Homo sapiens: one gene and its partners. The protein of the gene in region 1 purifies or fractionates together with the protein of each later gene. This does not show direct contact. Each region holds a gene or a part of one and is shown on either strand. Other genes may lie near its edges. The genes, in order: HECTD1, ZNF622, URGCP and SMC2.

Region 1 (7,034 bases):
TTTCTTTTAAAAATCTGGCTCTGTGTGGGTTTACTAATTCAAAGTCTTCCCAAGTCAAAATTCCATTAAACCAAGCTGGGGGTTTTGGTTTAGGGGGATCAAGAATAAATTCTGATTTTGAATCCTCTTCAAAGCTTCCTACCGAGAGTGAATCATGACCTTCTTCTGTAGAAGCTTCAGACTGACTTTCAGTACAGTGTAAGTCTCTATCACCTCGTGACTCATAAATCAGTTTACTCATATTGCTTTTAATGTCACCCATACACATAAGTTTAAAAAAAGGTTTAGAAATAGGTAAGTCCACAAGTCTATTGTCTTGAATGCATTTGGCCAAGAAAATTCCAAGGAAATGAAACAGTTTCGTGATCCTTTCAAGCTCATCACTATCCTGTGGAAATGGTGCTGTGAACAGTCCACATGACCTCTGCACATAATATCCAGGAGGTTTCAATCCACCTCCAAGATCAACCTAATTTTTTAGAGGGTGAAATGCAAATAAAATTAAACAAAAGTTAATAGAAACTAAGCCTATCATCATCTAAGAAAAAAATCCATAAACATTAAACATCTTCATGAATTTGGCTATCTAAAAGTATATAATTTTATTAAATAGCTTTTGGTGACTAAATTTTATCGCTTTAGAACTATTTTAATTGCATCAAGATTATTCAATAATAAAAGTAGAGTCAGAAACCTGGCTTATGCTCTGAACACATAACCTATTTTTAACACTTTTGAAAGCAGAGTCACAACTCAAGTCACAAAATGAGAAATATTCTTACGTGACGAGATTCATCATCTGGAAAATTATCATCACAAAGCCAAGCTCCCAAGTCAGTTCTCTGGAATTCTGCTGCCACCAGAGCATAAAACTCTAATGTGGGTCCCAAGCCAGTTCCTTCTTCTCCTAAAAATTCAACCTAAAATATGAACAAATAAATTGTGGGTTAAACGTAAAGTTTGGGGTGTTTTTAAAAATAATCTAATTCTTGTCAAAATTTATCATATCTGATCCAGTAATGTACCTTTTTTCAAAATAGCAGTGTATATATATAATAAACAGCACAGAAGTGTTATTTTAATTTTCCTAAAGAGTCCACTTGTTGTACACTATTACATGCTTAAGCACTGTGCCAAGCATCATTCATACATTTACTTCTCACAACAACCCTGCAAAATAATTATTTCCTTTTTACACCAAAGGAAACCAAATCTCAGATAAGGAGGTTAAATCATTTGCTTGAAGAAATGATGGTGAACAGACTTTTGTGTGTCTCTGTGTGACACCAAAGCCTAGACTCTTCCACTTTTTAATTTTTATTTTTTGAGACAGTTTCACTCTTGTCGCCCAGGATGGAGTGCAGTGGCACGATCTCAGCTCACTGCAACCTCTGCCTCCCGGGTTCAGGCGATTTTCCTGCCTCGGCCTCCCAAGTAGGTGGGATTACGGCATGCACCACCATGCCTGGCTAATTCTGTATTTTCAGTAGAGACAGGGTTTTACTATGTTGGTCCGGCTGGTCTCAAACTCTTGACCTCAGGTGATCCACCCACCTCAGCCTCCCAAAGTGCTGGGATTACAGGCATGAGCCACTGCGCCTCGCCTCTTCTGCTTATTTCTGAGTTAAAGACACTTTAAATCATTTTTGCAACAGGAAGAGTATGGACAAAAACCCTTAAAGTGATTGCATAAAGTATAATAAAAACTACAGCATATGGTTAAAAAAAAAGATTATCTATATTAGAAGAATGTAAACAACTGGGCATGGTGGCTCAAGCCTGTAATCCCAGCACTTTGGGAGGCCGAAACGGGTGGATCACTTGAGCCCAGGAGTTTGAGACCAGCCTGGGAAACATAGTGAGAACTTGTCTCTATTAAAAAAAAAAAAAAAGAAGAAGAAGAACATAAGGGTAGGAGGAATACAATGAAAGTCTGTATATAAAGTGAAAGATGTAAAGCCTTGGACATCTTCTAGAGATGTATCATATTTCTTGCAATTAGTTTATGATCCAAAAGTTAAAAACAAACCAGTTGGATTCACCCCTGTGACAGGAGACGTATTTCCACTCTTCCTCATATAGGGAATACTGTGTATATGAAATAAAACCAACAATGTCCACAGTAACATTTCTAAACTAAATATATTAAATGTCATACTACCATTTGCTATAACATGTCTCAACACAGACCAGTGATATAATACCAAGCACAATTCAAGTGAAACAATATTACAAAACCAGGTGCTCCCAAAATATCAAACAGCACAGTTTAATGTAAAAGTAAAAAAGAATCCCTTGTGAGTACTACTATTTTAGTCCAACTTTGTTATGAAATGGGTAGAAGCCCTCAAGCAGAACAAGCACTTTGCCACCTCAAGAGTGGAGATCTTCTTTGTTGCTCATTAATGGCACAAGACCTAACCCCTAAGGAGGTGGACTGACATCCTCTTATGAAAAAGATGCTCTGCCAGAGGAGAAGGCTTCTGCCTACAGAACAGGAAAACCCCTCTTCATGTTTACCTACCACAGTTTTTAATGCAGTGAAGATACACATTGGGCTGGTTCCCTAAGTGTCATTCCTGTTCCCTAAATCTAATTTTATATGAGATTACCTCAAGAACTGATTTCCGATCTGCATGTATTTGCATGACATTCTCAGCCCATTCCATCAGTGACTCGCCACGTGGAACTTTTACTCTTTCATGCTTGAGACGACCAACTCGAAACTCTCCAGGGTCATCTCGCCTAACACTGCTTGTGGTTCTCGTTCGCTCCACAGTGGCTTCACGTCGGTTCTGTAACCATACTATTGCTCTGAAATAGAAAAATATCTATGAGCTGCAGCATACGTTAACAGCTGAATGTACTACTAAACCAGCAACAGAATTCAAAGATTTAAGAAATTAAAAAATAGTATTTTATCAGGTGATTTTTAAAACACAGTAATCTTTTTTTGTTACATAAACTGCTTCCTGTCACAAGTAAAAATATATGAAACTCCTTTTATTATAATCTGCCTTAAGCAAACTGAGAAAGTACTGGGTCTATATTTTGCCTCCTTATTTTAGCAGTTCAATAAAAATAATAATCTGTTGTCCAAGCCCCAACATCATTCAAAAAAAGGAAAAATGTTTCCTATCAGAGAAATTTAGAAATGATTAAGCTATCTTTCAAACTGAAAGCCGCCATCAAAACGGTAATTATAATTTTAAAACAATTTTTCTTTTTTTTTTTTGAGATGGAGTCTTGTTCTGTCACCCAGGCTGGAGTACAGTGGCATTATCTCGGCCCACTGCAACCTCCCTATCCCGGGTTCAAGTGATTCTCCTGCCTCAGCCTCCCCAGTAGCTGGGATTACAGGTGTGTGCCACCACGCCCAGCTAATTTTTGTATTTTTAGTAGAGATGGGGGTTCTGCCATGTTGCCCAGGCTGGTCTTGAATTTCTGGCCTTAACTGATCCACCCGCCTCAGCCTCCCAAAGTGCTATGATTACAGGCATGAGCCGCCACACCCGGCCACATTTTCTTTTTTTTAATAACAATCCATTTATGGTGGGAGGAAGAACCGACAATTAGGAATAAGAAGCTGAAGGTTCTACTCTCATGTGTGCTACTATTTTCTCATGATCTTAGGCAAATCAGCTAAGTACGTGCAGAATCAATTTCCTCATTTATAAAACAAATTATAATCAATGCCAGTTATCACAACATGCCTATAGTTCTATGTATATAAATGCTTTGTAAATGGCATTAAATGGTACAAAAATGTAACTATCAGGGAAGAAAACAAACAGTTTAAATTATAACTTTTTTTTTACAACTATTTTGGAAGAGTACTTAAGGTAAACAATCATTCAACAAAATATTTATTGAGCACCTACAATGAGTCTTGCTCTGTTGCCCAGGCTGGAGTGCAGTGGTGCAATCTCAGCTCACTGCAACCTCTGCCTCCCGGGTTCAAGCAAATTCTTATGCCTCAGCCTCCTAAAAAGCTGGAATTACGCCCAGCTAATTTTTGTGTTTTTTTGTAGAGATGGGGTTTTGCCACATTGGCCAGGCTGGTCTCGAACTCCTGGCCTCGAGTGATGTGTCTGCCTTGGCCTCCCAAAGTGCTGGAATTATAGGCATGGGCCACCGTGCCCAGCCTGAAAACAGAAACTTTTTAAATGCTTTTTTTTTTTTGGTAAATTACTTCTTCCATGATTAGAGGGACTATCTTCAAAGTAGTACAAATATTTCGTAAATAATATCTGACCATTTTCTAACCAATTGAGTAATTTGTTGCACAATAAGCCATCTCACATCTTTCAGCAAGAAATACATTAAATTTGAATAGTAAAGACATTACACAATTAGGCTTAGGACAAAATTAAAATTTGCCTGAAGTATTTCTTTGGGGGAGAGGACACCACACTTCTACTCAAGGAAGAGAAACATTTTTACAGTCCAGAGGTCTTTTATTTTTATCTTTATTTTTTATTTTTTTGAGATGGAGTCTCGCTCTGTCGCCCAGGCTGGAGTGCAGTGGCACAATCTCTACTCACTGCAAGCTCCACTTCCCAGGTTCACGCCATTCTCCTGCCTCAGCCTCCCAAGTAGCTGAGACTACAGGTGCCCACCACCACACACAGCTAACTTTTTGTATTTTTAGTAGAGATGGGGTTTCACCACGTTAGCCAGGATGGTCTCGATCTCCTAACCTCATGATCTGCCCGCCTCGGCCTCCCAAAGTGCTGGGATTACAGGTGTGAGCCACCGCGCCTGGCTATTTTTTTTAAACACTATTATGCATGAATTCACAGAGAAGAGGTTCCAGCAGCTCAGACTTCTTTCCCTTGGTTTTCACACAGCGCGCTTCTCTGGGTGGAACAGGCTGGCACTTCAGCTAAATGCAGGTACCTTTCTCTTTGGCTTCCTTCTTTTTCTGATCATTTTCCTTCATGTGTTTCAGGAAGCTATCTCGGCTCTTAGAGTGCTTAATGTGCTCAATATGCACATTAATTCTCTTGGTAAGAATCTTGCCCTTGTTTGTTTACAACAATGCCATTAGCCACGCGTGGTGGCGTGCACCTGTAATCCCAGCCACTCAGTGGGGCTGAGGCAGGAGAATCGCTTGAACCTGGGAGGCGGAGGTTGCAGTGAGCCGAGATCACACCACTGCACTCCTGCCTGGGCGACAGAGCGAGACTCTGTCTCAAAAAAACAAAAACAAAAACAAAAACAAAAAAACAGCAATGCCAACAGCCTGCTGGGTAACACTGTAGACTCTTCCAGTTTAGCCACGGTAACACTTGTGGGGCATTCCTTTTTGAACAGTACCCATTCCCTTAATGTCTACAGTATCACCTCTCTTTTAGATTTGCATATACGTGGCCAAAGGAACAACTCCATGTTTTCTAAAAGACCTAGAAAACATCTATCGGGTATCTCTCCTCCTTTCCTTTGGATTAGTCATTTTGGCGAATTACTAGAAGATTGGTAGTTCAGGCCAAAAGGCAATGCTGACTATTCTTTATAAGAATACAAGATAATATATTCCCTCTATCAGTCTTGACAGTATAGTTGTACATTTTCAACTTACATAACATAAAAGCATACTTATTCTAAAAACATAAAAAAAAGGCTTCTTACCTTGAGGCGCCAAATGCTGTACATGTGAAATAAAGCTGTCTAGTTTCAAATGGTATTAGAAAAGGACATTTGCTGGTTAATTGTTCACACCAGTCTGGCAGAGCCCCACTTGCCAGTGCCAATGGTTCCTGCGAATTAACAAATAATAATGTCTTAGTGCTATAAGGCATTCATGCATGCATGCATTCATTCATTCGTTCATTTTTTTTTTTGAGACAGAGTCTCACTCTGTTGCCCAGGCTGGTGTGCAGTGGTACGATCTCGGCTCACTGCAGCCTCTGCCTCCTGGGTTCAAGCGATTCTCCTGCCCTAGCCACCCAAGTAGCTGGGATTATAGGCATGTGCCACCGTGCCCAGCTAATTTTTGTATTTTTAGTAGAGACTGGGTTTCGCCATATTGGCCAGGCTGGTCTCGAACTCCTAGCCTCTAACGATACACCCACCTTGGCCCCCAAAATGCTGGAATTACAGGCATGAGCCACCACACCTGACCCTATAAGGCAATTATTAAAAATTACCAAGTCAATTATAAACCTGTAATTAGGAAATAAATGCAAAGGACCATATAGCTCAAATTACCAATCAGAGGGAAGGGAAAGATGGTGAGAGGTAGAAAAGAAAGTAAAGGGAATATTAGGAAAAGTCCAACAGTAATAGAATGAAGAGTTCAGCTGTCTGATTTTATTACCTCAATCTGCTGTAATATTTTTGTTGTAATTTTTTTGCTAGTGAATTCATCTGGTGGAAAAGTAAACTGAGGCTGTTCATCACCATCTATAAAATTAATTAATAAAATTAATAAAAATATAAACTGACTTGCTTTAAAACTGCTATAGAAATGAAACAAGGCTTCTTACAGACCTTCCTGGGATATTCTTGAATAAGGGTCACTTGCAACTATATATAGAATACGCAGAAGCTGAAGGACATCTTCTACTCCACAAGAGTTCTGTCCATTGCCTGCTTTGGCCTGAGGTTGTTCTTTTGTTAAATTAAGAATATCACTACTTTGAAGAGTAGAAATGGCCCCCTGGTTTAACCCAGACTTTGTTCCATGCTCACAAAAATCCTATAGAAACAATTAGAAAAACTGGCCATTAATCACATTTTCAAGAAAAACAGTGTATCATTGTATCAATACCACTATGAAAGGGTTGGAATTTTTTAAAGTGCCTTCTTTTTAAATAAAAACATAACACAAGACATAAATCAAGGCATTCTAAACCATTAAAATTCCCAAATAAAATATAACCACTCTAAGCCATGGTCAAAGTCTGCATTCAGATCCAATGCTACCAGCCATATTTGAAATTTTAGAATTTGTGCATTAACAGTGTTAATTCAACCTCATTTTTAAAATTATGTCTCAATGAACTGCTGTTCCTTAAGAAGCTTCCAAAGCT
Region 2 (7,000 bases), on another chromosome or scaffold:
TCACATATTGGGTTCCTGGAGAGTCCTTGCATCACCAGCTGTCTCCTGAAGGAGTTGAGACAGTTGCTAAACCAGGCCCAAACCAGGCATCTGATGGTGAGATTACCCCATTGGTGGTTCACCCCTAACTAGAATCTTTTTTTTTCTCTGAGAAAGATTTTTGCTGTCACCCAGGCTGGAGGACAGTGGCACAATCATGGCCTACTGCAGCCTCAGCTTCCCTGAGCTCAGATGATCCTCCCACCACAGCCTCCCCAGCAGCTAGTGTGCACCAATATGCCCTGCTAATTTTTGTACTTTTTGTAGAGATGGGGTTTCGCCATGTTACCCAGGCTGGTCTTGAACTCCTAGACCCAAGTGATCCACCCACCTCAGTCTCCCAAAGTGCTGGGATTACAGGTGTGAGATACCATGCCCGGCCCTAACTAGAATCTTGAATTTTTTTGTATGTCATTTAGCAAATGTATGTTAAGTACTTGTGAACAACTAGTTGTCAAAATTCCTGTGAGCTAGCACAGGAGATAAGCAGATGTGTATAATTACCATGCCAGGCATGCATAGACCAAGTGATACCATGTTCAGAAAAGTCTCAGTCTTTTAAGTCTTCCTTTTGCATTTTCTCCCTGATTTCTCATTTTGCAGCTGGAGACTTGCAGTTGGTGGACATGACTGGGTGGAGGTAGAGGGGAGGATTAGAGGCTGTGGCAGTAGAGAAGACAATGAATGTCTGCTGGTGGTGGGAAGCATCCTCTTTCAGTATTTATCCCTCTCAAGTTTCCTTTTAGACAGCAGTGTTTATGACCTTTTGACTGATGTTGTAATCAGAGTGGTCAAAGCAAATACCATGGATAGTTAAGCAGCTGCCATCAGCAGTAGGCTTGGAATGCCCAGCACTCAGTCTCTCATCCTGTGGTTATATTCAGAATCCTACCCAGTCTCATAGATTTCAATATCTTCTGTAGGCCCGTGACCCCCACATTTATATCTCTAGTATAGCCTTCCCCTCAGCTGTAAACTGAAGATATCCAGCTGCCTCCTTGATATTTCTACTTGTGTCCAAAAGGAATCATTAACTTAACCTGTCCAAAATCAACTCCTGCTATGCATCCTAGTCTGCTCTCTGTAAGTAAATGGCATCTCTGTCCTTCTAGTTACTTAAGCCAAATGCCATGCAGTCTTCCTTTATTCTTCTATTTTCTTTCATGCTTACATTAGAATCGATCACCAAATTCTGCTTTATCTGCTTTTGCACTATCTATCTTCAGAGGCTGACTGCTTCTCACTACTTCTATGGCTACTACCCAGGTCCAGGGCACCATCATCTTTCGCCTGACTTCCTACAGTAGCCTCCTGCTGCCTGGTCTCCATATTTACATCCTTACTACCCACTATGTTCTATTCTCAAAACTGTAACTAGGGGGATCCTTTTAAAACATTAAGTGAGGTCAAACTCTGCTCAGATTCTTTCAAAGACTACCTATCTTACTCAAAGTAAAAGCCAAAGTATAATGGCCTGCAAGGCCCTGCACATAGTGTGGAGCATCTGTGGTTCTGTGGTTTTGTATTAGTTGCTCTCTGGATTCCTAACTATTCCTCTAATGCATCAAGTGTGTTTCTCAAGACCTTTGCATTTGCTGCTGTATTTGTTTATAGTATTCGCTTAGATATTCACTTGACTTGTCCCTCACTTCTTGCAGGCCTTGACATAAATTTCACCTTCTCAGTGTGGCCTTTTTTGACCACCTTCCATAAAATAACACCTACCCAATCCTTTTTATCCTGTTTTATTTTTCCTTATATCCCCTACTGCCATTGTGTGTATTGTATATTATTTATTGTCTCCTCCTTCTAGAATCTAAGCTTCAAGCCCTAGCCTTTTGTTGTTGTTACTCTTGTTCTTTACTGGGTGTTGCTTAAACCGTTAGTTTGAATTAAAATATGTAACTGATGGAAACGGTTCTCCCTTAGTCCAGATGATGTATTTTTCATTCCATTTACAGTTTTATTCTGTTGGTGCCTAGAAATGAGAAATTATATGAACTTTTCTTCCTAAAAATGAATATTAAATGATTTGTTTGTCTTAAAAAAATAAAAGTCAGCCAAGTGTGGTGGCATGAGCCTGTAGTACCAGCTGCTTAGGAGGCTGAGGTAAGAGGATCACCAGAGGCCAGGAGTTTCAGGCCAGCCTAGGTGACACAGTGAGACCCTGTCTCTAGGGGAAAAAAAGGAAAAAAAAAAAAGTTGATAATGCTTAATAAAGAAAACTTGGAAAATAGAAAGCCTTTACATACAAAGCTAGTGTTTATGGAGTGCTTACCTGCCAGACACTGTTCTAATAAGCATTTTATGTGGATTCACTCAGCTAAAAAATGACAAATTACCTAAATTTCACTCCCCTTCACAAGGTAACTTGTTTACTTATTTTGGACCTGAAACTTTTTATTGAAGAATAAACTTACAGAAAAGTGCATATATGTATACAGCTGGCCCTCTGTAGTCATAGATTCTCCATCTGTGCATCCAAACTAAAGTATTCGAAAAAAATTTTGTCCATACTGAACATGCACAGACTTATTTTTCTTGTCATTATTCCCTAAACGTTTAGTACTGTGTAACAACTATTTACATAGCATTTACAATGTATTAGGTATTAATAAGTAATATAGAGATGATTTAAAGTATGCAATGATTTAGGTTATATGCAAATGTTATACCATTTTATATCAGGGACTGGAACATCTGCAAATTTTAGTATCCTAGGGAGGTCCTGGAAGCAATCCCCCATGGATACCAAGGGATGACCGTACTTGTGATATCATGATTCAGTGTAGTGAAATTTTAAATATAACTAGCACCTAGATCAAGAAACAGCATGTTAATAATACCCTGACATTTCCCTTGTGTGTCCTTCCAGAAACTACCCCTCCTTTCTCCAAGAGTAACTACTATTCTGACTTATAGCTGCATAGATTGGTTTTGCCTGTTTTTATACTTTATATAAATGGAATCACAAAGAATGTACTCTTGGGTGTGGCTTCTTTTGCTCAACTTTATGTTTGGGAGACCCATTCATACTATTTTATATAGCTGTGGAGAGTTCTTACTGTTACAGAGTGTTCTGTTCAGTGCTCCACAACATCTAGTCTACTGTTGATACACATTTGAGTGGTTTCTAATTTGGGGCTATTACAAACAATGCTGCCACATCATTCTAATGTGTCTTTGGCAAATGTTTATAGGTTATCTGTTGTGTGTATATGTAGGAGTTGGGCCAGAGGATATACATATGTTCCATTTTAGAAAATACTGTCAAATTGGTTTCCAAAGTGGTTTTCTATACTCCCACTTGTAGTGAGGGAGAGTTTTTCATCTTAGCAACTTTGGTGGGTGTGTAGTGGCTTTAATTTGCATCTCCCTGATGATGATTACTGCAATCAAGAGGCTTTTTGCATATTCATTGGCCATTTGGATATCTTTTTGTGAGGTATCTGATCAAGCATTTTGTCTATTTTCTTATTAGGTTGTCTGGTTTACTGTTAATAATTTAATGTACACTTTTCCAATTATTTTTTCATGTGTATCTATGAATAGCCTTTGTCAACATTTTTAGGAATATAGAGATTCTTGTGGAACTGCACTGTCCAATATAGTAATTACTGGGTATACCCATATAGCTATTTAAATAAATTGGAAGTTTAATTAAAAATTTAAACATTCAGTTCTTCAGTCAGACTACCTGCATTTCAAAGTTCTGTGCTGGAAAGCTCATGTGATTGCAGTTACTGTATCAGACACAAAGACATATTGATAGAACGTTTTCTGTCATCACAGAGTTCTGTTGGACAGCACTGTTCTATAATTTGTTTTTATAGTGGTTAAATTGAGTATAGCTGCATGTCCAGCTGTACATTCTCCTTCTTCTCTGTTAGACAGCCTTTCTAGGGAAAAACAAATAGAATTCTGTTATATGTCATTTGCTCATTTCTACTACAGACAAAATGCTAACGAGTTGTTTTCTCCCAAAACCTTTTAGCTGGTAGTTCCTACAGCTGCTTCCTCCCCTCTCCCTTTTAGGTAGCTTAGGAAGTTTGCCACATTTGCAAATGAGTTTATGTCTTTTAGTTCAATTTGAGATATTAGTCTATTTATTAGTGCAATTTCTCTGTTATAGGAGTAGCTATCCAGATCACAAGGAAGGGGAGGACCCCAATAAGGCTGAGGAGTTGCCCTCAGAAAAGAACTTGGAATATGATGATGAAACCATGGAATTGATTCTGCCTTCTGGTAAGTGCATTTGTCAAAAATAAATAGCTTAATGCCAGTGGGATTGAGGGAGAAGCATATCTCCATCAATTACTTTCCATACTGAGGGAAATAGACCATAAGCTTAAAGTATATGTTTGGGTTCTCATGTACGGTGTAAACCCTGAAGGTTGCTGCTCAGCTCTAAGTTGCCTGTTTTGTTTAAATTTGATCAGTGTTTCTGTTCATTTCTGGGTTATGATTCAGAATGTTTGATCAGGCATTTCTTTTTTTTTTTTTTTTAGATGTAGACCTTTTCTATTCTGTTCTTTATTTATTTATCTTTTTTGGTCCTGTCTAGGTTTCTCCTGTTAATTGTAACCTTACTGTTATTCTTTGAACTGATTCCTGTTTCCTTTTGTTGCTCAGACTTCCAAATGGTAGTTTGGTGTGGGTGTATCTGACTCATGGTGGAAATTTAGCCACCATGAGGTATGAAAAGATGAAGAATAACCATGAATGTGAGAAGCATACATGGTTGTTTATTGTGTAGGAAGAAAGAATCGTGATTAACTGATAAGAATAGGAGAAGCTACAGAAGACATGTTTGAGAAATGAAAGGGGATGGAAAGGTAGAGATGATAATAAGATCTTAATGTCTGGTATTTACTGAGCAGTTAGCACATTCAGGCAGATGTATTTGTCTTTATAGGCCAACGTGAGTTAGATTCCAGCATCTTCATTTTACATATGAAGCTTAGAGAGGCTGAGTAACTTACCAGGATCACATGCCTAATCAGCAAAGCCTTTTTCCAATATCTGTATACTGCCTTGGGAGATTTGCAGTAACGGTGCAGGCAGGAACAACACACCCTGCTGGTGGAGAGGTCCGCAATGAAGCAGCCTTGTCTTATGGCTTTCCACATAGAATGTCACTGCTTAGGTACAGATGACTATCTTTAGCTCAGAATGATAACCCTGTAAGGCCAAGAGCAGCTTTAGAGTGTGGCAATAGGAGGAAAGGTCAGGCAGAACCTATTTTGAAGATGACAGTTCTTTCTACAGTGATAAGAAGGTTATAATGCAATATATTATTATGGCCTATCTAATACACAGTGGTAAAACCTAAATCCCAGAGAACCTTTTCTAGTCTTTCTCTGGTGACAGTACCCATATAGAACATCAGAAATATGTTTAATAACTTATTTTCCAGAACTGTATGTTTGACTTGTTGTCTCCTTAGCTTCTGCTTCTTAAACGGTAGAATCAGATAACCATAGACCTTAAGTAAATTGAATAAGACAATCCTAGTACAGCAGTGTCTGCCGTGTAGTAGGATCACTATAGTGTTTGCTTCATTTTGCATCTACTTTAGCACAATATATTACAAACCTTAGCATAACGTGAGCATATCTATTCAAGAAATCTAGGATGTTTCAGAGAAGTTTTCATCTAGACTTTAAATTTTTGAAACTTATAAAAAATAAAGAATCCTCAGCTTTGTCCTGGGTGACTGAGTTTTTTAAGGTATCTAAAAAGATACCCATTTTGACCGCCAAAGCCAAGCCCATTTTTGGCTTTGGCTAGCCTTAGAAAGATCTTAGAGAGATCTTCCTCTCCCACATCCAGATGGCTTAGTAACTCCTAAATGTCTTTTGAGTATTTTTGAGTATTTTTTTTTTTGTATTCATTTATCTGTGTCACCATTATACCCTCCTGTCTGGTCATCTCTAATCTGGTTTCCACATGACCACCAAAACATTCTTTCTAAAACACCAGTAGATTTTCTTTACCCTCTGTAGTTCCTCCACTGGGAGCCATTGCCTTTAGGGTAACTTTGAGTTTCTCTCGCTTCTGGTCCCTCAGGTGTGTAGTGCTATTCCTCTACCCCACCCACATACAGTTCTCTTCCTCTGGGTGTTTACATGTGTGGTGCCTCTTTTATTCCTACTTTTCTTGTAAGATTCAACTTATTTAGATTCAACCCTCTGGGAAGGCTTCCTGAACTCATCTTCTGTCCATTTACTGGGTAACAAGAGTCTCTCCCCTGCTGCTGGGACACTAAATCTAGTTACTCAGATTGGACTTCAGTAAAATCAAGCAGGCTATCTCAAAGCTAATGACAAAAAGTATCCACTAGAGGGCACTGTGAGCATTTATTTTGAAGATTGTGGTCTGGCAAGGTTTTTTTGGGTTTCCTTCGTTGCTCTTCAGCTCTTTTGGAGTAAGTTGGTATGAAAGGCCCATTCAATTGGATGTCAGAAATTGTAAGGCCGTTTGTTAAGAAGGAGTGGACATTAGCCTGGTGTGATGGTGTGTGCCTATAGTCTCAGCTAAGGCAGGAGGATCACTTGAGCCCAGGAAGTCAAGAGTCACAAGGCTGCAGTGAGTCATGATCACGCCACTGCACTCCAGCCTGGGTGATAGAACAATATGCTGTCTCCTAAAAACAAAAAAAGAAAAAAAGGAGTGGATGGTCTATAAGTGGCTACTGCTGTGTCAAAAGCTAGATGGACAGGTCGCATGCTTCACCATGACTTAGACATAACCAATCCCTTATTTATTGGGCAGTCACCCTGTGTTCTAGAAAATACTTTTCCTTGATGAGGGCCTTCAAGTGTAGCTGTCCTTAGCCCATCATACGTGGTGCTAATATCAGGTGGTCACTGTCATTGGCACAGGGTAGGGGGAGCTCTGAATGCTATTTTCAGTTCCTTCTTACCAGCTGTTGGAAACCTTGGCATTGAGTAATGAAGCC
Region 3 (7,552 bases), on another chromosome or scaffold:
CGTGACTGGCTGGTCCAGTTTATTTATAGTGCTGTTCAGGCTGTCTATTTTCTTATGGTTCTCCTGTCTGATTGTACTATTATTGAAAGTGGGGTATTGAAGTTTCCAACTTTTATTGTAGAAGTCTGTATTTTTTCTCTTTAATTCTGTCAATGTTAGCTTCATATTTTTTGGGGATCTTTTGTTTGGTGCATACATGTTTATCATTGTTATGTCTTCTTAGTGAATTGACTCTTATCAATATGTAATGTTCTTTTTATTTATTTATTTTTATGAGAAAGAGTCTTGCTGTGTCACCCAGGCTGGAGTGCAGTGGTGAAATCTTGGCTCACTGTGGCTTCAGCCTCCCAGGCTCAAGAGATCCTACCATCTCAGCCTCCTGAGTAGCTGGGACTACAGGTATGCATTACCACACCTGGCTAATTGTGTTTATTATTTGTAAAGACAAGGTCTTACTATGTTTCCCAGGCTGATCTCAAACTCCTGGGCTCAAGTGATCCTCCCACCTCAGCCTCTAAAAGTGCTGGGATTAAAGGTGTGAGCCACCATGTCAGGACTTTTTGAAAAAAAATTTTAGTGTAAATTTTTAATAAAAAGATGGGACCAGGCATGGTGGCTCACATCTGTAATACCAGCACTATGGGAGGCTGAGGCAGGTTATTGCTTCAGCCCAGAAGTTTGAGACCAGCCTGGACAACATGGGGAAATCCTGTCTCTACAAAAAAAAAAAAAAAAAAAAAAAAAAAATTAGCCAGACATGGTGGCACATGCCTGTAGTCCCAGCTACTTAGGAGTTTGAGATGGGAGAATCACTTTGAGCTGGGAAGTTGAGGCTGCAGTGGGCCATGACTGCATCACTGCACTTCAGCCTGGGCAACAGAGTGAGACCGTGTCTCATAAATAAATGAATAAACAAATAAATAGATCAGTTCTCACCATGTTGCCCAGGCTGGTCTTGAACTCCTGGCCTCAAGTGATCTTTCTGCCTTGGCCTCCCAAAGTGCTGAGATTATAGGTGTGAGCCACAATGCCCAGCCTACAATTTTCTTATATGTCTCTTGTAACAGGGTGTCTTTTATTTTTTTTGAGATAGAGTTTGGCTCTTGTTGCCCAGGCTGGAGTGCAATGGCACGATCTTGGCTCACCACAACCTCTGCCTCCCGGGTTCAAGCAATTCTCCTGCCTCAGCTTCCCGAGTAGTTGGGATTACAGGCATGTGCCACCACGCCCGGCTAATTTTGTATTTTTAGTAGAGAACAGGGTTTCTCCATGTTGGCCAGGCTGGTCTTGAACTCCTGGCCTCAAGTGATCCACCCATCTCAGCCTCCCAAAGTGCTGGGATTACAGGCGTGAGGCACAGCACTGGCCAATTTTATTTATTATTATTATTTTTTAAATTATTTTTTATTTTTATTTTTGAGATAGTCTGTCACCCAGGCTAGAGTGCAGTGGCTGCAGTCACTGCAGCCTCCACCTCCTGGGTTCAAGCAATTCTCCTGCCTCAGCCTCCTTAGTAGCTGGGACTACAGGCACACGCCACCACACCCAGCTAATTTTTGTATTTTTAGTAGAGATGGAGTTTCACCATGTTGGCCAGGCTGTCTCAAACTTCTGACCTCAAGTGATCCACCCGCCTCGGCCTCCCAAAGTGCTGGGATTACAGGCATGAGCCACCGTACCTGGCCTAAAATACTGGTTTTTAACCTATGAAGTTGGCAATGATTTTGAAAAATTGTAAAAGTTACACAGTGTTTTGGAAAACTAGGACTATCAGGTGATTGTGCTGGGAAGGCAATCTGTATATATGTGTGTATATGTTGTGTATGTGTATATTTGTGTGTCTGTATATATGTGTGTAGGTATATGTATACATATGTGTGTATGTGTATTATGTATTTAAGTATATGTATATTAGTGTGTTTGTGTATGTGTGTAGGTATACACATACACATACACAGAGTATATATGTTTCAGAAGAGCCTTAAAATACTGATATCCTATTGATCTAGAAATTCAACTCTTCAAAATTTGGCATAAGGAAATAATCATTGATGTTTATGGGATGTTTTGGCTATAAGGATATTTATTACTCACATTCCTTATAATAATGAAATACTGGTAGCAATATTTATGTCCAACAGTAGGGGTTGGTTAAACATGATGGTCTAACCATATAGTGGGATGCTAAAATTCATGTTAAGTGTACGGGCCACGGGAAAGTTTCTCCTTGCCCTCTGAAGATTTACTGAAAAATCAACTCACAAAAAGCAGATTAATTGAAGAAAAGGCATACAAATTTTATGAATGTGTGCACAGGGAGAATTACAGAATGATTTCCCACCACCCAACAAGGTTCAGAAGCTTGTAGACCATCTTGGCAAAACAACTTACAGGAGGGGAGAAAGAGGAATTCTTTCAAGGGGCAATAAAGGATTACTAGGGAGAAGGAATGGATCAGGGCACAGAGATTAACTTGTACGCTATCCTATGAAAGGGTCTTTTCAGGTGTGGTTACATTCTTGGTCTTACAGGGAGGGCAAGAAAAACAGTTGTTCTCCTTGGAGGGTCTGGACTTTAAGCAGATAAAGACATTTTCTGTTTTGGGAGAAACCAGTGGGGAGGGAGATCAGAGAGACCTTGAGACTTCTTCAGTTCAGCTTGTTAAAGTGCCATATTTTGGGGTTATTGGTTTCTGAACCAGATTTTATGTCAGTAAACATGTATTCCTTATGTTTAAAAGAATGCTTATTTAGGCCAGGCATGGTGGCTCACGCCTGTAACCCCAGCACTTTGGGAGGCTGAGGCAGGCAGATCACCTGAGGTTGGGAGTTTGAGACCAGCCTGACCAACATGGGGAAACCCTGTCTCTACTAAAAATAGAAGAATTAGCCAGGTGTGGTAGTGGGCGCCTGTAGTCCCAGCTACTGGGAGGCTGAGGCAGAATTGCTTGAACCCGGGAAGTGGAGGTTGCAGTGAGCCAAGATCTCGCCATTGCACTCTGGCCTGGGTGACAGGGCAAGACCCTGTCTCAAACAAACAAAGAAAAAATTCTTTTAGTTTGATCTCCTTCATTTCATTACTCCCTTGAATCAGGCATTTAGGATTTAGGATTTCCCATTCCTCAAACTCTTCCTAACTCTGGTCCTCCTGGATTTGTCCTTATTTTGGGTGTCACAAGTTCGCGTGGCTTTACCTATCAGCTCCCATTTACAGAGCATTAATTATCTTCTGAACTCAAGGTAGCAGTTATGAATTTCTTTACCGAAGAGGACAAGGAGGCTCAGAAACATTGACTGGATTCTCCCAGGAGGAAAAGAGACCATGCATCACGCAATGTTTACTAACATTTAAAAATAGTTACAAATGTTTACAAATATTAATTCATTTAATCTTCACAGAGAGGAAGGGACTTATTTTTAGCCTTATTTTTCAAATAAGGAACTGTGGCCCTGGAAAGGTTCTATCTTGCAGGGGCTCCTGGGGCTGGTAATTGGTGGAGCCCAGATTCCAACACAGGTATTCTGGCTTCAGAGCTAAGGTTTTAATCACTGCTTTGCTGTCTTGTATTCTTAATAGTAGTAAACATTTTTAAATAGTGGTTGTTAATGATATTTTACTTTTAACTTTAATTTTATTTTTAAAAATGAAACGGGCGGGGCGGGCAGGGGGTCATCTCAATATGTTGCCCAGGCTGATCTCAAACTCCTGGGCTCAATCGATCCTCCTGCCTCGGCCTCCCAAAGTGGTGGGATTACAGACGTGAGCCACTGCGTTCGGCCAGTGATATTTAATATAATACTAAAAATGTTATCAACAATGGTTTACATTGTCCAGAGCTTTTTATTAAGCATTTTCACTTAGATCATTTTTGGAAACTCATTTTGCAGAGAGAAGAACTGAAGCTGAAAAATCTACCTGCCTAAGGACTCATAACTTGTAAGAATAGTTGTGAAACCTCACTGGAGGAACTGCAGATTCATTATTTTTCTTAATAACACACTATAAAGAATAATAAAAGTGCTTCGCATTGCCTAGAGCTTCACAAGGCCACTTTATACACATTTTACAATGGGTACCGTCTCAGAGAGGCCAGCAACTCGTCCAACACAGCACTGCAAGTAAGAAGTAGGAAAGTTATTGTTTTGCTTAATAATAAGGCCTTACGCTTCAGGGCTAAAGAAAAGCCTTTTCTTACAGAAATTAAACTCCAATTACAGAAAGGTGTGAAGTTCAGTAAGGCCCTGGGGCAGGTTATCCTACAGCTTTTGGCACCGCAGGCACCGCCCGGCGAGTTCCGGCCTCCAGGCACCTGGGCAGGTGGGCGTTGGGCGGGCTGCGGGCTGACCTGGGCCGCCCCGCCCCCACCCCGCCCCAGCTGTCCCCGGGCTGCTCCGAGAGGACCCCGGGCCCACCTTACCCCACCTCACCCCACCTCCACCCCTGGAGCGCGTCCCGGAGCGGGCGGGCGGCCGGCGGGCCAGGCCCCTCCCCGGCGCCGAGCCGCGGCCGCGCGGAGGAAGCGAAGGAGGCGGGAGCGGAGACCTCGCTGCGCTCATGGCGTCGCCCGGGTGAGTGCCGCCTCGCAGGCCCTGCGCCCCCGCGGCTGCCGGCAGGAACGGGAGCGGGACCCGGAGCGGCTCTGGCCTGCGGGCTCTGGTCTGGGATGCGGCCCGGACCCGGCCAGGGGCGCCCCCGCCCGCCAGGCCCACCAGGCCCACGGCCCGCTCGCGCCGACCTTGGGCGGACCGGCCGCGCGGGCGTGGGGGGCGGGCGGGGGCGCCGGCGGAGGACAGCGGTCCCCCGGGATGCGGGGGTCCGGGTACGCGGGCCTAGGGGATCCGGGGAGGGCGCGAGGCCCGGAGGTGCCCGGGGCGCGGCGGGAGCGAGGGCCCGGCGAGCGGCTGGGGAACCGGGGTGCGGGTCCTCGCCGCGGCCCGGGGCAACCCGCGGAGGCCTGGAAATGCTTCGCTCCGGCGCCTGGTATCGATGTTCCTGGGTTTTAAACTTGCTCGCGTTGGGAGTGGACGCTTGTTTGCCGCGTCGTTGAGACGTACCCAGAATGTCAGGATCCGGGCAGATGCAGACCCTTTGCTGACAGCCGGAGAGCCGCTCCGGGATCTCCTTGGTCGGGGCCATTGCCTACCGGCCTGCCTTGGGGTGGCTGCGCTTATTTTGATATTACCTCTTTTCAACTTTTTTGATTTAAATGTTATTCCTTTTAGGAAATGATGGCGACACATATAGTTTGTAATTTTTGAGAAAAAATTCTCACTTGGCAAACTAAAACCTCAGTAATTCATTATTTTTTTGTTTTTTGTTTTGATAATTTTACTAGTACTGAAATTTGGGAATGACAGTCCAACACTTTCATTTTACAAAGAAAGAAATTAGGCTCAAGGTCATCGCTTTAGTTGTTAAAATTCTTCTTTGACTGTTACCCATCATTCAGAGGGTCTTGGATCTAGTGGCTGTGATAGCCATTCAGAACAGTTCCCAAAGAGCTTTACAGGTGTGTGTTCAGTGGTAGGGGTGGGGAGGGGACGGTGCTAAGGGGCCGGGATCATGGATTTCGTGCCTCCTCCAGATGAGGCCTGAGCCATGCCCTGGGGTGATTTGGCTCAGTACAGTGGGCCTGAATGAAGCAAGCTGAATTTGAACCCCGCCTGCTGTCTTTCTAGGCTTTGGGGCAGTGGTCATTTCCGGGACCAGGCCTTTTCATTGCCAGCTGACTACCCAGCACTTTGAGCTCATGAATAGAGTAAGCAGGGAACCATCCCTGGGAAGGCCAGGCTGATTGACCTAGGGGTTCAAGGTCCTGCAGCATTCCTTTCCCCCTTGTCAGGAAAGGGTGGGCAGAGCCTCCTGGAGGCAATGTTGAGGGTGGCTGAACCTGTGTGGGGCTGCCCTGAACGAAGCTTTAAAAAAAAAAAAAATAGTGGTGCATTTGGTGCCCAAGTACACTACTTTGTAGACATGGGTCAGAGGTGGACTTAATGCTTCACTGGTGTTTCTGTGAGCCAGTAGGGCTTAAACTGTGTCCCTGTAGTTGGTGACATTTGGTATTTGCGGTTGTGATTATTTGTGTGACCCCCATGAGTCTGCAGTTTGTAATCTATAATTTTCTGCGGGATATCCATTGCAAAAGCTGAGGTCTCAAAACCTTTAGTATACAAGTCATGCACCACAAAATGACAGCGGAGGACCACGTTATATGACAGTGGTCCCATGCACAAATACTTATCATTGTGTTAGTTGCCTACAGTATTCATACTGTAACATGCTGTACAGGTTTGTAGCCTAAGAGCAACAGGCTGTACCATATTGCCTAGGTGCATAGTACACCTTACGATGTAGGTTTGTGTAAGTTTGCCCTATGATGCTCACACAAGGACCAAATTGCCAAATGACACATTTCTCAGAATGTATCCCTGTTGTTAAGTGACTCATGACTGTTGCTTTATTTCATTTTGTGGGGTAAGCTATGCACATATTATGTACACTGGCAGACATAGCTCCTAAGTGTCCACTTCTACAGGCTTCCCTGGTAGATCAGAGTCTAGCTAGGAAGACAGTGCTTTCTGAGACCCTCAGGGCTATCTCAGTCAGCCAGCTAGCAAACATTTAAGCTACTGCACTAGGTATCTTAGGGAGCAAGTCCACAGATAAAGGGCAGGGATGGGAAGGGACTGGTGATCTGGACTGGGCTAGTCATAGAGGAGTCTCCAAATTGATGTTTTTATTAAGTGACAATCTCCATGAGTTGGGAAGGAAAGAAGAAACGCTGACCATTTTTGAGGACCTTATGAATATGCCAGGCATTGTGCTAAATAAAGGAAATGGCAATCAAAGGATATGAAGGCATCAAAGGAAAAGATGTGTTTGAGAAATGCCCCATGGCCCAGTGTGTTTGGAGCTAAGTGGAGACAAGTTCAGAGGATGAGACTGGGACCAGATGATGGGACCTGGTCCCGTTTGTGGACTCACTGCCCACCACTCGCTGAAGGTAAATGAAACTATTTGCATTGGTGGAGCTCTCAGAGAATCAATGTGACAGCAGTATAGAGACGGCAGAGAGGGCAGAAGACAGGGAGCAGCTCATGCTGCCATCTCCCCTCTTTCGAACAGGCCTCACTCAACAGCTCATCTCTTGTCTTTGCCCCTTGCTTGGCTGTCTCACAACTGCCCAGATCTTCCTTGTCTGCCAGCTCCTCTGCCTGCTCTTTCACTGTTGGGGTTTCCTTGGGCTCTATAATCCATCTCCGCTAGTCCCAACACATGTTCTCTGCATGGTCACATCTGTTTTAGTGGCTTTAACTGTTGTCTGAATCAGAGGTTCTTAACTTAGGCTCCATGATTCATGGATGGGCTTCTGGGGGTCCCTTTGTTCTCTGAAATTGTATGCAGCATTGGGAGTAGTGTGTAATTTTCCTGGGCACAAGGTCTGTAGCTTTCAACAGATTTTCAAAGGGGCTCTTATCCTTAACAATGTTACAACTATTCATCCTAAATTTCCAGATTTTCATTTCCAACTACACTAGATACAGCTCCTCAA
Region 4 (7,034 bases), on another chromosome or scaffold:
TACAGTTCTAGTCATTATCCTCTTATCAAAGGCCACTTTTTTGGCATTATCCATATTGTCACAAACAAATGTTGTTCCAAAGACAAACTCCATTGCTTTCTGAAGTTCTGGTTTATATTCAACCAAGGAAAGAGCCACATGAACGTTGTCAGGGCCAACCTGTGGGACAACAACAGATATGCCACAGTACATACTACTACTTTTCCTTTCAGATATGATTTTATAAACCAGTAAAAACTGCTGTAATAGAAACTTAAATAATACTTACCTAGCATTAAAACTCTTTCTGAATTTTCTAAAAAGCTATGTAAAACTCAAAGTTTCAGGAAAAAAAAACTGCAGGTTTAAATACTGAAAGATTTATTGCTAAGTAAAATATTTATTAATAGCTAGTATGGAGCATTATGAAAGTTTCTATCAATAAGGAGCCATTACCATGTTTCTAAGTGTCCTTCACCAACGTTGACTGGACACAACTTTAATTATAGTACAGATTGAGTATCCTTTATCCTAAATGCTTAGAACAGAAGTGTTTGTTTTCAGATTTTGGTATATTTGTATTACAGTGGTTGAACTTTCTAAATCCAAAATACTCCAATGAGCATTTTTTGGGTGTCATAGTTTTGAATTTTGGAAAATTTCAGTTGTTGGACTTGGAGTGCTTAACCTATAATTTCCAGATCAACACAACTATATGAAAATGTTGTTTCAATAATCAGGAATTTGATTTCACAACAAATATTTTCTCATACAAATGAAACATGCTAGAGCAGTCGTCTGCCAGTTACAGAAATGAAAACACAATAACTGAGAGTAAAAGTAATTTAAAAAATCCCCAGTCCTCTATTTTGATCACAATGCTTCTTCTCAGCCTTTGTTTATAGAGGCTACCTCTGCCCATCATTTAAGAAAAACTAAGCATCTCTTTTAGAGCTTAGTATCAGCAGTGGCAGTCACAATGAAGGAAGCTCTATGTAACACATGTTCAGTATTGTTCTTTGATGTGGCAGCTACCATCAAATAGGTTTGGCTAAAGGATTTGAGGCAAAGTATTTTTGCTGTTACTTGAAATCCCAATTTCCTTCTAATGCTGGGACTCGATGTATGGCTGAATTAACTTCCTGAGCCTTCTTGACTTAATGGTGAGTTTTCAAGTAAAGAAAGTACCAACCAAAAACATCACCTTTCAATTACTCAGCACTCATCCTCCCTCTCCTGATAGTATACATATCAACACAACTGTATTTTGAAATCATTTGCATTGAAATCTTCTGAATGTAACTAAGGATACAACAACATCCACTTAGTTACAAGTATATTTTTAAGTTTCATAGAAATGTCTTTTCAACTGATGTACTTGGAATGTCTGATCAATAAAAAAACTGATATTACAGCTGAATGTTATGACTGACTTCATGTTTTTACAGTATTACACAACTACAATAACTTTTAAATGTATTTCCTTGTACTAATCTATTTTCTTACTAGCAAGCATGTCACTTTAGATCAACGTCAGCAGTTGAATGGGATCCTGGTCACCTGCTATGTACCTGCACAGGCTGAATAGCAATCTAGAAGAACTCTAATAAAGAAGCATCACTGCAATACTAATGAAGGCCTTCCATAATGGCTGTGACTGTGGGCAGTTTTAGTATGCCTGACATAAAAAGAAACAAAAACAAAAACTTGAAGAATTTGGGGTACGTATCTAGAAGCTCAGTTCTAACCATTCAGGAATCAAGAGTGTAATTTTCACCATCACCTGATTGATAGTCATGTGACTTAAGGTTAAAAAGGACATTCTAATACCACAAAGTGAAGCATCAAAAGGAGTTCAAGTCTTCCAACATCTCTATTCTCTTATCATCTAATTGCACAAGCCAACCCAATTTTTTTGTATTTTAATTTTGTGGTTCTGCATATGATTATGTCCCTCAAAATTAATGTCTTCTAACTTAAAAAAACCACAGATGACGATTAAACATATAAATAAGACAAAATGAGACTTACAAGATTCTGAGCAACTCTCAGAGTTTCTGGTGCAATACATCTGGCTGAAATTTTATTGAGTGGAATTATAGTGTATCGACGTTTCAGTTCCCCCCTTTCTAGTAGCTTTTTACCAGTAACCTACAACACACATTTGAATTTAAAAAACGCATGTTAAAAATGACAGAAAATTGAGAGAATGCAAGTTTAGTAGTCTATAATAAATGAATGTTTAGTGCCATTTATCCCAATCAAGTTATAATTACATATGCAATGGAACATCATTTGAACTTGAAAAAGGAGATGCTGCCATTTGGGACAACATGAATAAACCCAGAGGACATGATGCTAAGTGACATAATCAGACGAAGAAAAAATAAAAAACTGTATGACCTCACTTGTACATGGAATCTTTTAAAAAAAAAAGCTGAACAAATAAAAAGAGTAGGATAGTGGTTATCAGGGATGAGGAGTGAAAGAAAATGGGTAGAAGTAGGTCATAGGTCAAAGGGTACATATTTGCAGTTGGGTAGGATAAATAAATCTACCTATTCAGAGATGTAATGTATAGCATGAGGACTATAATTAATACTATATACTGAAAATTTGCTAAGAGTAAATTTTAGGTGCTGTCACACACAAAAAAGGTAACTATGGAAGGTGAATGGCTATGTTAATATGTCTGACTACAATAATCATTTCACTATGTATATGTATCAAAACATCTTGTACGTTTGTTTTTTTCTTTTTTTTTTTGAGATACAGTCTTCCTCTGTTGCCCAGGCAGGAGCGCAGTGGTGCAATCTCAGCTTACCGCAGCTTACCGCAACCTCCACTTCCCAAGTTCAAGCAATTCTTGTGCCTCAGCCTCCAGAGTCGCTAGGACTCCAGGCGCACGCCACTACGCCTGGGTAACTTTTGTATTTTCAGTAGAGATGGGGTTTTGCCACGTTGCTGAGGCTGGTCTCGAGCTCCTGGGCTCAAATGATCTGCCCACCTCAGCCTCCCAAAGTGCTGGGATTACAGGTGTGAGCCACCATACCCAGGCTTCTTGTACATTTTAAATATATATATAAAATAAATTAAAAAAAAAACAAGGAAGTAAATTTGACAATGACTACGTAGCATTTACAGGAAAGAATATGAGCATTCTACAGAAGGATAATAAGTGAGAACTGAAGAAATGTAAATAAATTCAATGTTACCTTGATGGGAAGACTGACATCAAAAACAGGTCATTTATTCCCAGATTATTTTACAAATTAAATTCAACTTATACAGCAAAGAGATCCCAAAAGTTTAAGATTGGTAATATGCATTCTGAGTTTCTGAGTAAGCATGAGACCTCCTTTGGAATAGTTATCAAAAAGTTATGAACCAAATAGTTTTACCCTATAAATAAGTCACCTTAGGGGAGAGCCTTAAAACATCAAAGTATTTAATTCTTTTAGCAGCACATGACTTTTCAAGCTAACCAAATTTTAAATTTTTTAAAATTAAAATCAACTTACTTCTGTGTCTACTACAACATTGTAGAGTCGTTCTCCAGCCACTAATTCTAAAGCTGTGGTTGCAGAAGTGTCTTTCACACTAATCAGAGAAGCCACAAGTCCTTTCACACAATTTCTATTCCAGTTCTTCTCTGGATCCCTGAAATACAAAAGTTGACAAAAATTAATCTTAGATAATAAAGTAGAAAAAGTTATACTTTACTCATCAGGAGCTCTTTTGGACAACACATTAAAGTGAAATGAAAGTAGAATCAGCAAAATGGTTTTAACAAACCAAAAATTTTAAAATGTCCCAAATGACTAGCCAGCTGTTGTTTTTAAATCACAATAGATCTTTCAGTATGTTTCAATGTAGTAAGAACAACTCTGATGTTCTAATCCCTATAATACATATGATTACTGTAAATATTCCATAAAAAACCCACATAGCAAAACAAATTATAAGATGTAAATGTGGATATTTAACATTAATGATACAGTAACTCTGAAGACATTTTGAACTGAGATTAAATTTCCCTCATTTTAAGATTAGTGGCATCATTAGCCATTAAATTTCACAAGAATTTCCCTGCCAACATTTAAAACATTTCAACAAATGTTTAAAGGAAAAATACCAATGAAAGAAAAGCAGCTTACAACAAGTTTCATACAAAAATCTTGGTTTCGACAAAATTTTCACACTGCTTCCAGCTTAAATAAAAATGTCTTGATTATTACTATGTTAAAATTCAAGGCTTAAGTCTCTTACTTGTATGCAAATCGAAGATTGGGAAATCTGGCTAATAGAGCTTCATATGTTTCTTTCAATCTACCAATATCACGAGACAGCTGCCTGCGCTTTTCCAAAAGGCTTTCCTCTTTATTTTCTGAAGGATAAATCATAATAAATTAAAACCAAGTTTTAAAAGCTCACTCTACTGTTTTAAGGAAAATATTAGCAACCACTATTTCCAAAGCATGCAAAAAATACAAATTTCTGTAAGTATTAAAAAAGCATGCTGAACCTTCCTATTTCTATCCACTGTCAAACAGACATTATTTCCAACGGCAAATAACACAATTTTCATTCCAAAAAATAACATACAAACTGAATGCCTAATGTAGAAATACACAAATGACATTTTTGAGCTTTCAAATGATTGAAGCAGGAAATTCTCAATACTGAGTTCTCAAAAATTCAAGAGTTGTTTTATAATTAGGTATTTTTTGACGATATTTACAACACTTCTTATACTAATGCTTGTTAATAGGCTAAGAAATGTTTCCTACTTGCTTGCGTTCTTTATTTAAATTAGCTTTTTATCAAAAATCACTACCTCCTCATGATCTGATTATCATGTTTTTAAAGGCAAACCTTCATAATTTAGCTTTTTCATTTCAGCTTCAAGTTTTTCTTTAAGTCTTTTTACAGCTTCTAGAGCTTCTTGATCCTTCCTGTAGCCACTATCCATCTTCTTAACTTCAGCTTGTTTATTCTTTAATTCCTGTTGAGCATGCTTCAACTTCATCTGAGCCTGTGGCAGAAAAATGCAACAGACCATAGGATGTATGAGGCAGACAGTGCTAGTAATTAAATGGCCGAAGATTCAGATTGGTTTTACTAAGAGACCTTAACCTTCAAAGTTTAATTGTTTGGTCTCTTGGATTAGTATTTCAACAAATTAGTCATTTCCCAGTATTTTCTCCTCAAAAAACTACTCAAAGTATAAACTAATATATGATTAATATGTAAAAGAATTTGAAATTTAAGTCCGTATTTTTAATAAAATATGACATATTCAAATTGAAGGATTATATCGAATAACTGTCAGTAGCTGGTAATTAAAAAAAGAACGCTAGAAATCACAACTCTCGTTCTTTTCCTTTCCGCTTAGTTGTTCATATTTGTATGTGTATATATTTGTGAGTGCTATCTAATAACAGTAAAGAAACTGAATTGAGCAATAAGACGTAAGATTATACAGGAAAAGAAGCTAAACTGACAGAGAAACTTAAATGCTGAGTCTGATAATTAAATGCTAGAACTATTTAAATTACATGTGTCAGGCCTTCAAGAATTTATACACTTGAACACTGCTTCTTAAAACTATGAACTAGTATTCTAAAACCTAGATGGGGTTTTAGATGGGGGTATCCTCCAAAACTGTATAATGATGTATTTTTCCCAGTTCCCTTATAAAATAATAGACAAACTGAGAGTAGAGTACTTTAAAGCTTTTCTACTATTGAGAGTTCTTATAAATTTGTGACTATCATCTGTCATGCCTGAATGAAAAAGTTGCAAATATATAAAGAGAAAAACCTGAGGATTAACGCATAATCACACACATTTGTGTACATGTTTTAAAATCTGTGTCTTCCATTAAAAACAAAACAATGATGTGCCTGTGTACATGTATTTTTTCTGCTAGCAAAATTCTTATGTTCATAGGACTGTAAGTTGCACTACTATGTAAAATCTGAGAAACATTATAATAGACTGACAAGACTTTTAAGATTATGAAATCAGAGTAGGGAGAGCAGACTAGAATGTGGCTACATGTGAGGTAGAGATACTTCCTAAAAAAATGTAAAGTTTGAGAAACAAGGTTTTAAGAACTAGGTATGGCAGGCAAAGCAATGGGGAGGACAATCCTGTTTTCCTGTTAAAGCTTAAGACTTCAACATTATGTTATCAATAAAAAATAAAAATAGCCAAAAAGAGACAAGAATAAATGCATTAATCTCGAAAATTCCACACAATGCTGCAAACAGAACAAAGCATTTATTGCACTTACATACCGAATTAAGATAATTTATGTAGTACAGCATCTTCACAAATTAACATCACCAATATTTAGCAATCAACATATTTGAATTTCGCTGCATTAGGCATTAGAGTTGCAGAATAAAGTAAACAAACAAGTTCCTTGAGACTGATTATTTTCAACATTATGTAACAATTGCCAAAGCATAACATGAAAAGAAACTTCTTGGAAAAAAAAGCAATCACATAGTGCTAATGTCTCTATTTACCTGTTTGGCTTCTGTCTGAGCTTTACTTATATCATTTTTACAGGCCATCATTTGACCAGCAAGAGTTGCTTCTGCTCCATCTTCATTACTGGACAGGCCAGCGGAAACAGCATTGAAGTGCTGCTGTGCAGCTGCCAGAGCTTCAGCATCTTTATTACTTGCTTCTTGAAGGGCATGCAGTCCATCTGTTATCTTTTTAACCTCTTTTTCCTTTGCTGCTAAAGTTTTTGAGTCCTTTAGGAAGAGTTTCAAATGGAAAAATATTATATTTCAGGAAAAACACCCACTTTCTTATACGCATACCCTTATGTAATAAAATTCCATAGCAATTTGGAGTGAGCATAATAAAATAATTTAACCATCATAACTTTATAAATACTGAATTATCATTTTGAAATTCACTCTCAGTTTTTAGAATAAATATAACTCTTATACTACTGGTTCATTCCATGTTATAAATTAAATCCATGAGACATTGGGCTAAATAATAATTGCAGATTTAAACAAATCACTTGAAGG

What was found.
Region 2: the proteins of HECTD1 (region 1) and ZNF622 purify together in Homo sapiens (affinity purification with mass spectrometry; 4 studies listed by BioGRID, with this or other methods). This does not show direct contact.
Region 3: the proteins of HECTD1 (region 1) and URGCP purify together in Homo sapiens (affinity purification with mass spectrometry; 4 studies listed by BioGRID and IntAct, with this or other methods). This does not show direct contact.
Region 4: the proteins of HECTD1 (region 1) and SMC2 purify together in Homo sapiens (affinity purification with mass spectrometry; 3 studies listed by BioGRID, with this or other methods). This does not show direct contact.

The regions. Positions count from the first base shown.
Region 1 is NC_000014.9:31,106,785-31,113,818, forward strand, and holds part of HECTD1 (E3 ubiquitin-protein ligase HECTD1), read right to left. Parts: intron 6,701-7,034; coding exon 6,493-6,700; intron 6,406-6,492; coding exon 6,320-6,405; intron 5,760-6,319; coding exon 5,632-5,759; intron 2,815-5,631; coding exon 2,613-2,814; intron 921-2,612; coding exon 783-920; intron 470-782; coding exon 1-469. UniProt on the Homo sapiens protein: E3 ubiquitin-protein ligase which accepts ubiquitin from an E2 ubiquitin-conjugating enzyme in the form of a thioester and then directly transfers the ubiquitin to targeted substrates.
Region 2 is NC_000005.10:16,455,801-16,462,800, reverse strand, and holds part of ZNF622 (cytoplasmic 60S subunit biogenesis factor ZNF622), read left to right. Parts: intron 1-4,171; coding exon 4,172-4,284; intron 4,285-7,000. UniProt on the Homo sapiens protein: Pre-60S-associated cytoplasmic factor involved in the cytoplasmic maturation of the 60S subunit.
Region 3 is NC_000007.14:43,903,578-43,911,129, reverse strand, and holds the start of URGCP (up-regulator of cell proliferation), read left to right. Parts: upstream 1-4,533; 5' UTR 4,534-4,554; coding exon 4,555-4,568; intron 4,569-7,552. Other genes in the region: URGCP-MRPS24 (uncharacterized protein LOC100534592), read left to right, coding at 4,555-4,568. UniProt on the Homo sapiens protein: May be involved in cell cycle progression through the regulation of cyclin D1 expression. May participate in the development of hepatocellular carcinoma (HCC) by promoting hepatocellular growth and survival.
Region 4 is NC_000009.12:104,111,296-104,118,329, reverse strand, and holds part of SMC2 (structural maintenance of chromosomes protein 2), read right to left. Parts: intron 6,750-7,034; coding exon 6,516-6,749; intron 5,015-6,515; coding exon 4,855-5,014; intron 4,367-4,854; coding exon 4,249-4,366; intron 3,640-4,248; coding exon 3,501-3,639; intron 2,131-3,500; coding exon 2,011-2,130; intron 160-2,010; coding exon 1-159. UniProt on the Homo sapiens protein: Central component of the condensin complex, a complex required for conversion of interphase chromatin into mitotic-like condense chromosomes.